3 linked regions of the Homo sapiens genome follow. The protein of the gene in region 2 interacts with the protein of the main gene of each other region in a biochemical or structural test. Each region holds a gene or a part of one and is shown on either strand. Other genes may lie near its edges.

Evidence for each region.
Region 1: the proteins of GIT2 (region 2) and ARHGEF7 form a complex in vitro, tested with the Homo sapiens proteins (one study listed by BioGRID).
Region 3: the proteins of GIT2 (region 2) and PXN form a complex in vitro, tested with the Homo sapiens proteins (one study listed by BioGRID).

Annotation. Positions count from the first base shown.
Region 1 is NC_000013.11:111,275,748-111,279,396, forward strand, and holds part of ARHGEF7 (rho guanine nucleotide exchange factor 7), read left to right. Parts: intron 1-1,839; coding exon 1,840-1,926; intron 1,927-3,649. UniProt on the Homo sapiens protein: Acts as a RAC1 guanine nucleotide exchange factor (GEF) and can induce membrane ruffling. Functions in cell migration, attachment and cell spreading. Promotes targeting of RAC1 to focal adhesions. May function as a positive regulator of apoptosis.
Region 2 is NC_000012.12:109,944,313-109,947,961, reverse strand, and holds part of GIT2 (ARF GTPase-activating protein GIT2), read left to right. Parts: exon of another isoform or gene 1-457; coding exon 458-706; intron 707-2,612; coding exon 2,613-2,702; intron 2,703-3,649. UniProt on the Homo sapiens protein: GTPase-activating protein for ADP ribosylation factor family members, including ARF1.
Region 3 is NC_000012.12:120,213,582-120,217,230, reverse strand, and holds part of PXN (paxillin), read left to right. Parts: intron 1-114; coding exon 115-390; intron 391-649; coding exon 650-958; coding exon of another isoform or gene 959-1,301; intron 1,302-1,569; coding exon 1,570-1,671; intron 1,672-1,813; coding exon of another isoform or gene 1,814-1,957; coding exon 1,958-2,128; intron 2,129-2,232; coding exon 2,233-2,406; intron 2,407-3,013; coding exon 3,014-3,095; intron 3,096-3,240; coding exon 3,241-3,389; intron 3,390-3,649. UniProt on the Homo sapiens protein: Cytoskeletal protein involved in actin-membrane attachment at sites of cell adhesion to the extracellular matrix (focal adhesion). Recruits other proteins such as TRIM15 to focal adhesion.

The sequences.
Region 1 (3,649 bases), on a different chromosome or scaffold from region 2:
AAGGCATCTCAAGCGATGAAAAATGTCTAATAGAAGCTCTATCTTATAATTTGTGAGCTACTTTTTATTCTTGACACAGGAGAGAGGCTTATGGCATGTTAGAGAGGCTTAGAGCTGAGTGTGGACTTGTTGATCAGTTTGATCCAGCTGAAGTCAGTGTGGCCCGAAGCCCACGTGAACTGAAGGATAGATAGTGTGCAGAAAGACTTGCAGGAGTCCTGTGCACACATCCGCATGGAGCTGTATGCGCTTATCTGGCCAGCAACTTTGTACCAAGGCTCACTCTCACAGGGACCTGCTGCTCTCAATGCTTTCGGGTCATTATACTTTCCTGTGAAAGTATGCTAGCTGACATATGCTTACAGGAGTCACAGTTTTCTTACAGGTTTGGTTTAAGTGAGAGATCAACCCAGATTTTTGGGACATACCCACCCACACAGTGAAAATCGAGCAGTTTGTTTCATGATTCACATTGACATACATTCAATGGGTCACTGAACAGGCACCTCTTTCTGAATTTTATTCTACCTTTGCAAAAATAACATGATCAAAACATGCGAAATGACTCATTTTTGAACACAAGACTCCAAGGAGAATAAGAAAACTAAAACTTCAAACTTATATAGTGTGTTTTCCTTTCCACCTGTAAAATATCACCCCTTCTACATAGTCTTGTAGTTTGGGTACCATAAGAAACCATGATTATAAAAACTTCACATCTTTTCAGAAGAAGTTTCTTTTTGAGTCATGCTCTTTTAAACTTTAATCTGTGGAAACATTTCCCAAAGTGTGTTCTTTATAATATTAGATCTATACAGCACTGGTGGGTGTTACTCCAAAATGCTTCAGAGTGGTTCTGATCACGACTGAACGTAATTAGTGGAAAAGATTCTTTATGATAGAGCTCCTCAGAGACTTGGCTGTGAATGTTCCCAATGTATGTTGTGATTCTTCAAGAGGGGAATATAGCAAGTCGTTCTCAGTGACTTCTTTAAAGTACGGAAGACTCTTTTCTCAAGGTGCTTTGCATAAGCCTAATGTTCTGAGGAATATACTTGGGGAAACTAATTCCTAGGACTGATTTCACTTTTTTGGGCCGTAGTTTAAATGTCAACATGTGAAAAGGACTGTGGCATTTTTTTGTCTCTTTTTGGATTCTTAGGAACTTTTTTCTTTCACTTATGGTCTCTTTGGCTTTTATCTTACTGAAGCAAATGATTTTTAATACATAAGTAATACTTTTAAGTCTGATGTAAACCAGGTGATGTTTATGGGGTGGATGAAAACAACACTGAGTCGACATTTGGGAGGTTTGGGAAGTGCCAGGAATTACTAGTAGACCAAAATTGATTTTAACATTTTATCCTTTCTTTAGCTTAAAGACTCCACCTGTTCCCCCTGACCCCATTAAAATTTATAGGTTCTCTCCTTTTTCTCTGAACCAGAAAAAGAAAATTTTAGCTTACCTGAAAATAGTTAATCACAGAGCTGAACTCTTTAACCAAATATAGTTTCAAGATGTTACACAGGCTAATTGTGAGTCCAGGATCTTTTAATCAGTCCGTTTACTTTCTTACCTTTTGTTTTTTGAAGAATTTGGAAGTCCTTCTCTTTACCTATATGTTAAAGCTCTCTCATAATCATATGTTAAGACTTAATACAGAATTTATCATAATTGTTTCCATTTAATTTACCTGATAAAACTTGATAGAAATACCTAAACGAGAAATATCATGTAATGTTTCATAGGGCCTAGTATAAATAAGTGAAGTATTTGTGCTCACATTTGTTAAGTAGATGTTTTTTAAGAAATGTTTTGGATTTCTTTTTTTGTATTAGGAAAAGAATGAAAGATATCTTCTACTCTTCCCAAATGTTTTGCTAATGTTGTCTGCCAGTCCTAGGATGAGTGGCTTTATCTATCAGGTAAAACACAATTTAAATTTATATTTTATTGTGGATCTGAGGATAATTTCAAACTGGCTTTGAATTTTGTGTTAAATATTACGTGTATCTATCTGTGTATGTGCTGTGTGTGTAGTGCTGTATATTCAGATATGGACGTACAGCTCCTGTTTGTGTTTCGTTGTGACTGCAAGCATATCCTATGTTAATTTCAAAAAAGGAAAGAAGTGTAAACTGTAGAGCAACCTCATAAGGACACAGACTACTGTGGCACAAGTCAGTCTCTGTCATTGCCTTCTGTCGTTTCATGCAAAATACCTTGCTCCTCCTTGCTATGGTTTTATTCTGTGAAATTGGTTCAAGTAGGGCTTGTGGGTTAGTGGGGTAGTGTAGACTAAGATCTTGTGTCAGTGGCACGGCACCGCCCAAATGCATCAGCAAACAGAAAGTGATGTAAGGGTGTAAGTAGCAGTGTGTGATCGTTGAACCTTTTTAATTTTTGTTTCCCTGCTTCTCTTTGAGAAAATGTGACAGCAGATTTGGGAAGGAGGTGCAAGGGTGAGCAGGGCCTTTTCTGTTGCGACAGTGGTTTATAGTGGTGGTATATGAAGGAGCTGGTATTTTCGCTGTCTGTCTAGTAGATGCACTTGGCAGGTTTCATTCTTCTTTTTCTGGGAAGTTACAGAGGCTCATATCCTTCCCATCAACTTTCTGAGGACTGGCCAGTCACCACGTAACCACTGCAGCAGAAGCCGCCACTTCGTGTTCTCTGGGTTGCATTTCATTGTAGCACGTGTTGTTTTGTGTTGGCGCAGCAAGGACGTTCAAGATCCCTAAGCAGACACTATGCCCTCACAGAGGCTCTGCCGACACCCAGAGAGGACTTGTGGCCATACGCTTACACCAACACACGTGCTTTAGAATTGGTGAATCACATATGTAGGAACAGACTCAGGAAAGTGAGGCTGTAGTTTGTTAGGCCACTGCTGAAGAGAGGTGATCTGTGGCTAGGATAGTGCCCACTACAGTTTCCCCCAAACTAGCAGCTACTTCTGTGTTAAATGACCTTGATAAACCTAAATCTCTGTCCTTTCTGGTCAGCACTATCTGGCTTCCGATTTTATATCCCCAGAATCTCATTCCAGTGGCTGGAGGCAGGGGCCTTCTCTAACCTAAGGAGAGAAGAGGTTGTCACTTGTGGCAGGCTTGAGTCTCTGCCTGTGTGGCTGGTGCTTACACTGGATTTGCCCTTGATGTGTTGACAGACTGCTGGAGCTCATCTCAACAACAGGATTTTATTTTTCCATTCTTAGCACAGTGGTGACCCATGGTCTCTGTATCATTGGTATCCGTTTCTACCATTAGAACACTGGCTTTGGGGGATGCCAAAAAGTGTTCGGTCCAGCCACAGTCATAGTGTTCTATACACCGATGTTCAGAGGGGCTAGGTTAAACACAGTTGTGCGGTTTCATTTTCTGTAGGACTTACAGCTGTTAAAGTACTTATATGCATTACGAATCTTGGAAAGGAGTTCACAGTGTGTAGCATTTTTTAAATACGCTTGGCCACAGAAGTGTCCAGCAGTCTCCTCTTCCACCGGCCATGCTTTAGGATGAGATTTCTCAGCCTGGGCACTGCTGACGTTCTGGACTGGATCGTTCATGGCCAGGGGCTGGGGGTCTCGGTGAGACTGTCCTGGGCACTGTAGGGTATCAGCAGCCTCTCTGGCCCTTACTTGCTGGA
Region 2 (3,649 bases):
GCTGCTTCCATGGTGTCTGCTGTCATTTTTGGCCTTTACAAATTGCTCAGGGCTCATTTGAAAAGCAAGTTACCTAAATGATGTTTTAATGATCTCGAACTCTTGCTTGAAACAGCCTTAGTAATAATCCAGTGTACAGCTTGCCTGCAAACATTTCCCAGCCCCACCATGACAAATTTTAAAGTGGTTAGACATTTTGTTTTGAGGAAGTCCAAACCACAACTTTTCCACATTCAGAAATGAAGCTATTTAATTTGCTTACGTGATGAAGGGAGTTGATTGTGTTTCACCCAATCCAGAAGAAAGGGTCCTTGTTTGTATTGGCTTTTTACTTTCAGCCCGGCTAGCTGTTACTGTCCTTATTGTTTAAAACTGGTAGTTGTATTCATTTACTTGGTGTTTGCTTTTTCTGCTTGCTGTAAAAAAACACAGTCCCACTGCCAAACATTTCTTTCAGCTTCAAACACTCCAGAGTGAAAATTCGAACCTCAGGAAACAGGCCACAACCAATGTATATCAGGTGCAAACTGGTTCTGAGTACACAGACACTTCCAACCACTCTTCCTTAAAGAGACGTCCGTCTGCCCGGGGCAGTAGGCCCATGTCCATGTACGAGACCGGATCAGGTCAGAAACCATATCTCCCAATGGGAGAAGCGAGCCGCCCCGAAGAGAGCAGGATGAGACTCCAGCCCTTCCCCGCGCACGTAAGTAACACCACTGGCGCTTCTGCTGTTCACTCTATGCAGCCTGTCTACTCTGTTCCCTCTTCTGAACCTACAGGTCCCCACAGCTCTGCTTTGCCAAATTGGACTAAGAGAGTTACCATTGTGTTTGCTGTATTAACATGTCCACAGATGCTTGCGATATTCCCACAAGCACACAGGGCCATGGGCTGATGGTTTCCTAACCAAGTTGGGGATTCTGGCTCTTGCCCGAACTGCTGCTTTTTTCTCCCCCACATCCATGATTATTTCTCAACCAGCCAGTGTTGGAACTTTTTTTGGTAAAGCTTCCTTCCTTCTCTACTTCCAAAAACAAAAATAAATCATAAAGTTCACTCTCAGAAGGAAGTGTTGCCTTCTTGGAGCTAGACAGGGATGTGCCCCTTTAAGTACTGGAGCCCTTAGAATCCAAGACGTCTTTTCAGCTCCTCCTCAAGCAGGTGGCCTTGAGTCTGTGGCCCAGGTACCCAGGCAAGGCTGGAAGGCTCCAGGCTTCCGCAGCCTCTCCATGTGTGCTCAGTGTGCCTGCTAGGTTCGCTTCTGCATCCTGCTCCTCCCACCGTGGTGGGGGAAGTGTGGCTTTGTTGTCTCAGAAAAGGAAATGTAATACTCTACATCAGTCTTAGAAGCGCTGAATTCCAGAGATTGTGTTCTGCAGCAGGGTTCTTACAATCTTATTTTGCATTGGGATACATACTGTGTTATAAGGTTTTCAAATATATTTCTTCTGGATTACTTTATTATAAAAATATGTGTTTTGCCAAGATGTTACATTTAAACTTTTTCATGGGATGCTTTTTCAGAGAGTAGTATTTGTCTTTTTGAGTGTCAAAGTTTATTATTTCTTCAGTCAAATTTTATGGGAGTTTCCAAAAAAATTCTCAAGGTAGATGCAAAGCAAGGACATGGTTTCGTGAATTAAACCCTAGTTTAATTTTGTCAATTTTCAGTGTGGTAAAATTACAATATTGTTTTACTATAATTGGGAGTCTGTTATCTCAGATTCTTTTTAAGATATTTGGGTTTAACATTCTAAGGCAATTGATTTGATACATTTGATGTAATGGGAATGCCACTGAACTAAGTTAAGAATCTTTTTTTTTTGAGATGGAGTCTCGCTCTGTCACCCAGGCTGGAGTGCAGTGGTGTGATCTCAGCTCACTGCAACCTTTACCTCCTGGGTTCAAGCAGTTCTCCTGCCTCAGCCTCCTGAGTAGCTGGGACTACAGGCACATGGTCCTGTGCCTGGCTAATTTTTTTGTTTTAGTAGAGACGGGGTTTCATCATGTTGCCCAGGCTGGTCTCAAACTCCTGAGCTCAGGCAATCCGCCCGCCTCAGCCTCCCAAAGTGCTAGGATTACAGGTGTGAGCTACCATGCCCACCCTAAGTTAAGAATCTTATTTTTGTATAGCTGAAGACAAAATTTAGGAAAAGCAACTTTGTTATTTTTCAGTGTACTTTCTTATTTTAGAAAAAATTAGAATATAAAGATATATCAGGAAGGCACTGTAATTGTACTAAAAATTAGATTGATAGTGTATAGCAACTTAGAATCATTTTTATAGTTTCTCATTTCACATCAGTCCTGATTGAAAAACAAATATGCATTTCATAGTATCCATTAAAAAATTATTGACAAGTTTGACAAATTATGTTAGGTATTTCCCTTATGGAAAAGCAGCCTTATTAAATTCAGAGTAATTTCCAGGAGGTGTTTCACCAAGGGTTTAAGCATCTCTGGGGTCCTGTCACTGGTGGCCACTGAGATTGCAGCACTCACGTCACATAATGTGTGGTGTTCCAGGATTCTTTTACTGAAGCTGGCAAGGTGGTAGGTTTTTGGTTTGTTTTGTATTTTCCCGAGTGTGTTTCTCTTTCCCATTCCAGATCGGGAGGAGTGCACTTGTGACCTCCTCTTCATCTCTGCCTTCCTTCCCCTCCACACTTTCCTGGTCGAGGGACGAAAGCGCCCGAAGGGTTAAGTACATTCTGAATGGTCTGCTCTCTGGAGGAGGGGCCGTGCTCCTGGGCGCTTTGTGCTTGGGCTCTGGCCCTCCTGTCCCTGCTAACTGCCCTTCCGTCCTGCATGAGGCAGCACTTCCTCCTGGTTTCTCACAGTGCATCAGGCTCACACTCGTCCACATGCACGCTCACCCATCGAGGGCGCCTCCCTTTCTCTAACCCCATACTGCTCATGTTCACGTCATATTTAACAAAGTTTGCAAATCACCCTACAGCATTTATTCTGAGCAAACTGTTTTTTTAAACAACGAGAAAATTAGCTGGCTGCTGGTTAGATATTATAATAGGCCAAATTTGTTCAATTTGTTCAGGGCTACAGTTGTCAGATTGAAACTGCTGTATGTGGACTCGCTGAAGTACTAAAATGTCATGCCTTTTTTTTTTTTTTTAACCTGTGACACATTTTATGTCAGCACCACAAGTGCTGACAAACCAAGGTTTACAAGTCCCTGCATCTTGAATCAGAATTGTAACACCTTGTGGCATTGGAGCTATGCAAGCAGCTGTTAACCTAAAGCTGTTCACTTGTACGGGTTGGTTAAACCTCACCTACTGGTGTATAATTTATGGTCTCAATAGCAGTGCATGATTCAGGTAAGCCTCTTTTAGAGTAGTCAGGCAGTAAGTATTAAGCACCTCCTCCATACACAGCGTTTGGGTAAGTCAATGAAAGGGTCCTAAGGACTTAGCTGGCACAGCCCCTGCTCCCAAAGGCACTGTCAATTAAAAAATACTTTCATGCATAAAGAGTGGTACATGACCACAACCTGGGAAAGCCGTGGAAAGGGCATAGGCTTTGAAATCCACGTCCCAGTTCTGGCTCCATCTCTTTTTTAATGGAAGGGTAATGTAAGGTAAGAGGAGGAAGGTGGCTGTGGGTAAGGGACCACCTTTACAGGCAA
Region 3 (3,649 bases), about 10 Mb from region 2:
TTCTTTGGTGGTTTTCTTTTGTGCTCCCTCTCCTGAGGCATCTGAGTGTGGCCTGAGCAGCGTTGTGCAAGCTGGGAGTGGGACGGTGACAGCCTCCCCTCCCCCTCCCCCTAGATCCGATCTGTGATCAGGAGGAGCTGGGAGTCTGGCCACGCACACCCCATGTCCCGGGAGCCCTCCCCTCGCCGCCGGCTGGACCCTGCCACCTTGAGCAGGACCCCATCCCAGGAACAGCTCATCGCGGAGCTGCAGGGGCGGCTGGGCATCCAGCCTGAGGCAGAGGAGCCGGCGGAGGCGGCGGGGCCCTCTGCCCAGGACTGGCTGACCGAGGGCGTCATCATCACTGTGCAGCCACGTGGGAAGCGGGCCGGGGGGCAGCTCGTAGAGAAGGTGGCGAGGAGATGCCCATGGCTGGGGCTGGGCCAGAGCCAAGCACCTGGGGTCCGGGTTCTTCCCTGGCCCCAGTGCTGGCCGGAGGGGAGATCTGGGGAGAGGGTGGGGGTTTCTTGCCTCCTGTGACTTTGGAAGACTGGCCCCACTCTTGGTGCAGAGTGGGAAGGCCCAGGGGGAGCCTGGGGAGGTCCCGCCACCCCTGTGGGCTGAGCTGGCGATTTCTTCCTCATCGCTCTCCCTCCTTTCTTCTCCCCAGGTTGTCTTCCCTCCTGGCTCTCCCATTCCCCTGAGAAGAACCATCTCTGTCCTGGCTTCTCCTTCTGTCCCTTTGCTCCAGCATCGCACAGACGCCGCGGCCAGCAGCTCTTCTCCCCTGCCCAGCCTGCTCGCCTCCTCCCCCCTGGGGCCCTCAGCTTATACCTGTGGTTCTTCTGGGGTCCAGAGTGCAGGGGAAGAGCCCCATGATGAGGGGGTGCAGGGCCCTGCCCTTCCCATTCCTGCACCCCACACCATGAGGTCCGTGGGCTGCCAGACTGATGAGGACCCGCTCTTCCCCCCGATGCAGGCAGGCCTTAAAGGAGCCCCTCCCTTTCTGTCCCCTGTCCTAATGCCTGAGCCATCCCCCACTCTGCACACACACACGTGCACACACACATACACAGATACCCTCCATCCCTCCATCTACAAGCCCCAGCACAGTAACCACAGTCCTGCCGTAAACCTTGACCCCGGTCTTCCCCCACTCAGAAGGTCCGCTGCCCTCTTGCTTTTCTGTGGGTCCACCCATGTCTGCTCCTTCCTCGACTGGTCCTCAGTACTGCCCCGGGCTCCCATCGAGGAAAGAAGCCACTCCAGAAGGGAGACCAGAAACCTGTCTCCTCCCTTCCAGCCCCCAGGCCCAGCGCCCGGTGAGGCCTCATCACTGAGCCCGGCCACCTCCCCTTGCCATTTCCTCTGCCTTTGGTCGACTCCCCTCCCTGTCCTTCTTCCTTTCTCCCTAGGCCTCTCTCTCAGGGCTCTTTTTCTCCAGATTTTTTCCCCCAATTTTGGTCCTGCCGGTGGGGGAGAAACCCTCAGATCTCATCCTAGATTCCCTTTTAGTCCAGTGACAAGGTCTTGTATTCTTTCTTAATTTTTAAAAAAGATTTCTTACCCTCATCTCTTCCCCTATCTAAGATCCAGGGCCTGGAGCAAAGAGCGGATGGGGAGCGGTGCTGGGCGGCCGGCTGGCCTCGGGACGGCGGGCGGAGCAGCCCCGGAGGGCAGGACGAGGGAGGGGTCAGTGCCAAGGCTGGGCTGGGTGTCCTGCGTGTCGTGCTCTCCCTGGGCTTGGCCATGCCTGCTGGGTGCCCTCAGCCTTTCCGACCCTGGTGGGCCCCTCCGACCACCAGGAGTCCTGCTGACGTCACTCCCACTTTAGGGCTCCTGGCCCCTGGAGGAGGTTGTACTTCTTGTCTCCATCAGCTCATCTGTCCAGGAGGGAGAAAAGTACCCCCATCCCTGTGCTGCCAGACACCGTACCCCGAGCCTCAGGAGTCCTGACCAGCCCCCTCCGTGTCCACAGTTCATGGCCCAGGGGAAGACAGGGAGCAGCTCACCCCCTGGGGGGCCCCCGAAGCCCGGGAGCCAGCTGGACAGCATGCTGGGGAGCCTGCAGTCTGACCTGAACAAGCTGGGGGTCGCCACAGTCGCCAAAGGAGTCTGCGGGGCCTGCAAGAAGCCCATCGCCGGGCAGGTGATGAGGGGGAGTGGGCAGGGGTGTGGCCAGTGGACTCCTGCAGGGGTGGGGGTGCTCCGGGGCTGGCCTTGGCCCTGGACCGCATTCCATCTCCTCCTCAGGTTGTGACCGCCATGGGGAAGACGTGGCACCCCGAGCACTTCGTCTGCACCCACTGCCAGGAGGAGATCGGATCCCGGAACTTCTTCGAGCGGGATGGACAGCCCTACTGTGAAAAGGACTACCACAACCTCTTCTCCCCGCGCTGCTACTACTGCAACGGCCCCATCCTGGATGTGAGTTCCTCATCCGGCACCGCGCCCGCTTCCGCTCATTCCAGCTTCACCGCAGCCCTCTGAGGATGCAGGGGGTGCCGTGGGAGGCTCAGAGAGGTCACATGCCCGAGGCTCACAGGGCTAGGGAACAGTGGGGCCGGATTCACAGCCACACCTGAACCACAGCCTGTCCCGATGTGCATCGGGCAGCCCCACCTCCCTTCACCTCCCATCTCGATTCCTTTCTGTGGAGACTCCCAGGACTCAGGAGCCCTGAGGAGATAAATGGAGTTGGATGCCAGCGGCCTCACTCTCCCTCTCTGTGAACTTAGGAAATGCCTGGCCTCTCTGAGCCTATGTTTCTTCACTTATAAAATGGGAGTCATAGAACTTGTGCCCTCTACTTGGGGTGAGGAGTAGAGGAGAGGGTATGTGTCTGGCTTGTCCCATCCTGAGTAACTCTGAATTCTTAGAGGCATTCACAGCACAATTAGGAGAGACCCCCATCTTGGGAGTGTTTTGCTCTGTCTATGGCTATGAGCTGCGGGTGGAAGGACGGCCTTGCTGGGCGTCTCAGTTGTGAGATCTGCCCAGAGCTCAGCCTTGATCCCACATTTTGCTTTCACAGAAAGTGGTGACAGCCCTTGACCGGACGTGGCACCCTGAACACTTCTTCTGTGCACAGTGTGGAGCCTTCTTTGGTCCCGAAGGTACGGGCTGGACCGGCGGACTGACCCACCGCCTCTTAGGAGGGCCGGGGAGGTGGGGGTGGGAGACGCTGCTGAGGTTGGAGTCAGAGTGGCTCCACTTCTGGAAGCCGGAATGAACTGTGCCTCCAAAACCCCCGCTCCCCAGGGTTCCACGAGAAGGACGGCAAGGCCTACTGTCGCAAGGACTACTTCGACATGTTCGCACCCAAGTGTGGCGGCTGCGCCCGGGCCATCCTGGAGAACTATATCTCAGCCCTCAACACGCTGTGGCATCCTGAGTGCTTTGTGTGCCGGGTAAGGAGCCCCTGACCACATCTGGAGGGGCGAGGAGCAGGCAGTGGGGAGAGAGGGGTCTTCCTCATTGTGCTGTCTGGATCCAACTCAGAGGCCTCATTTGGGGTTATTAATTGGGGGAGCAGGCAGGGGATCTCCTTCCTCCAGTCCAGTAGGTCCTGGGCCAGGGTTTGTACTGAGGCTGGGACAAACCAGGAGCAAGGTAGACATGTCCCCCAGTCCAGCCCTGTGCAGCGGCCCTGGGCCATTCCTATTTGGGA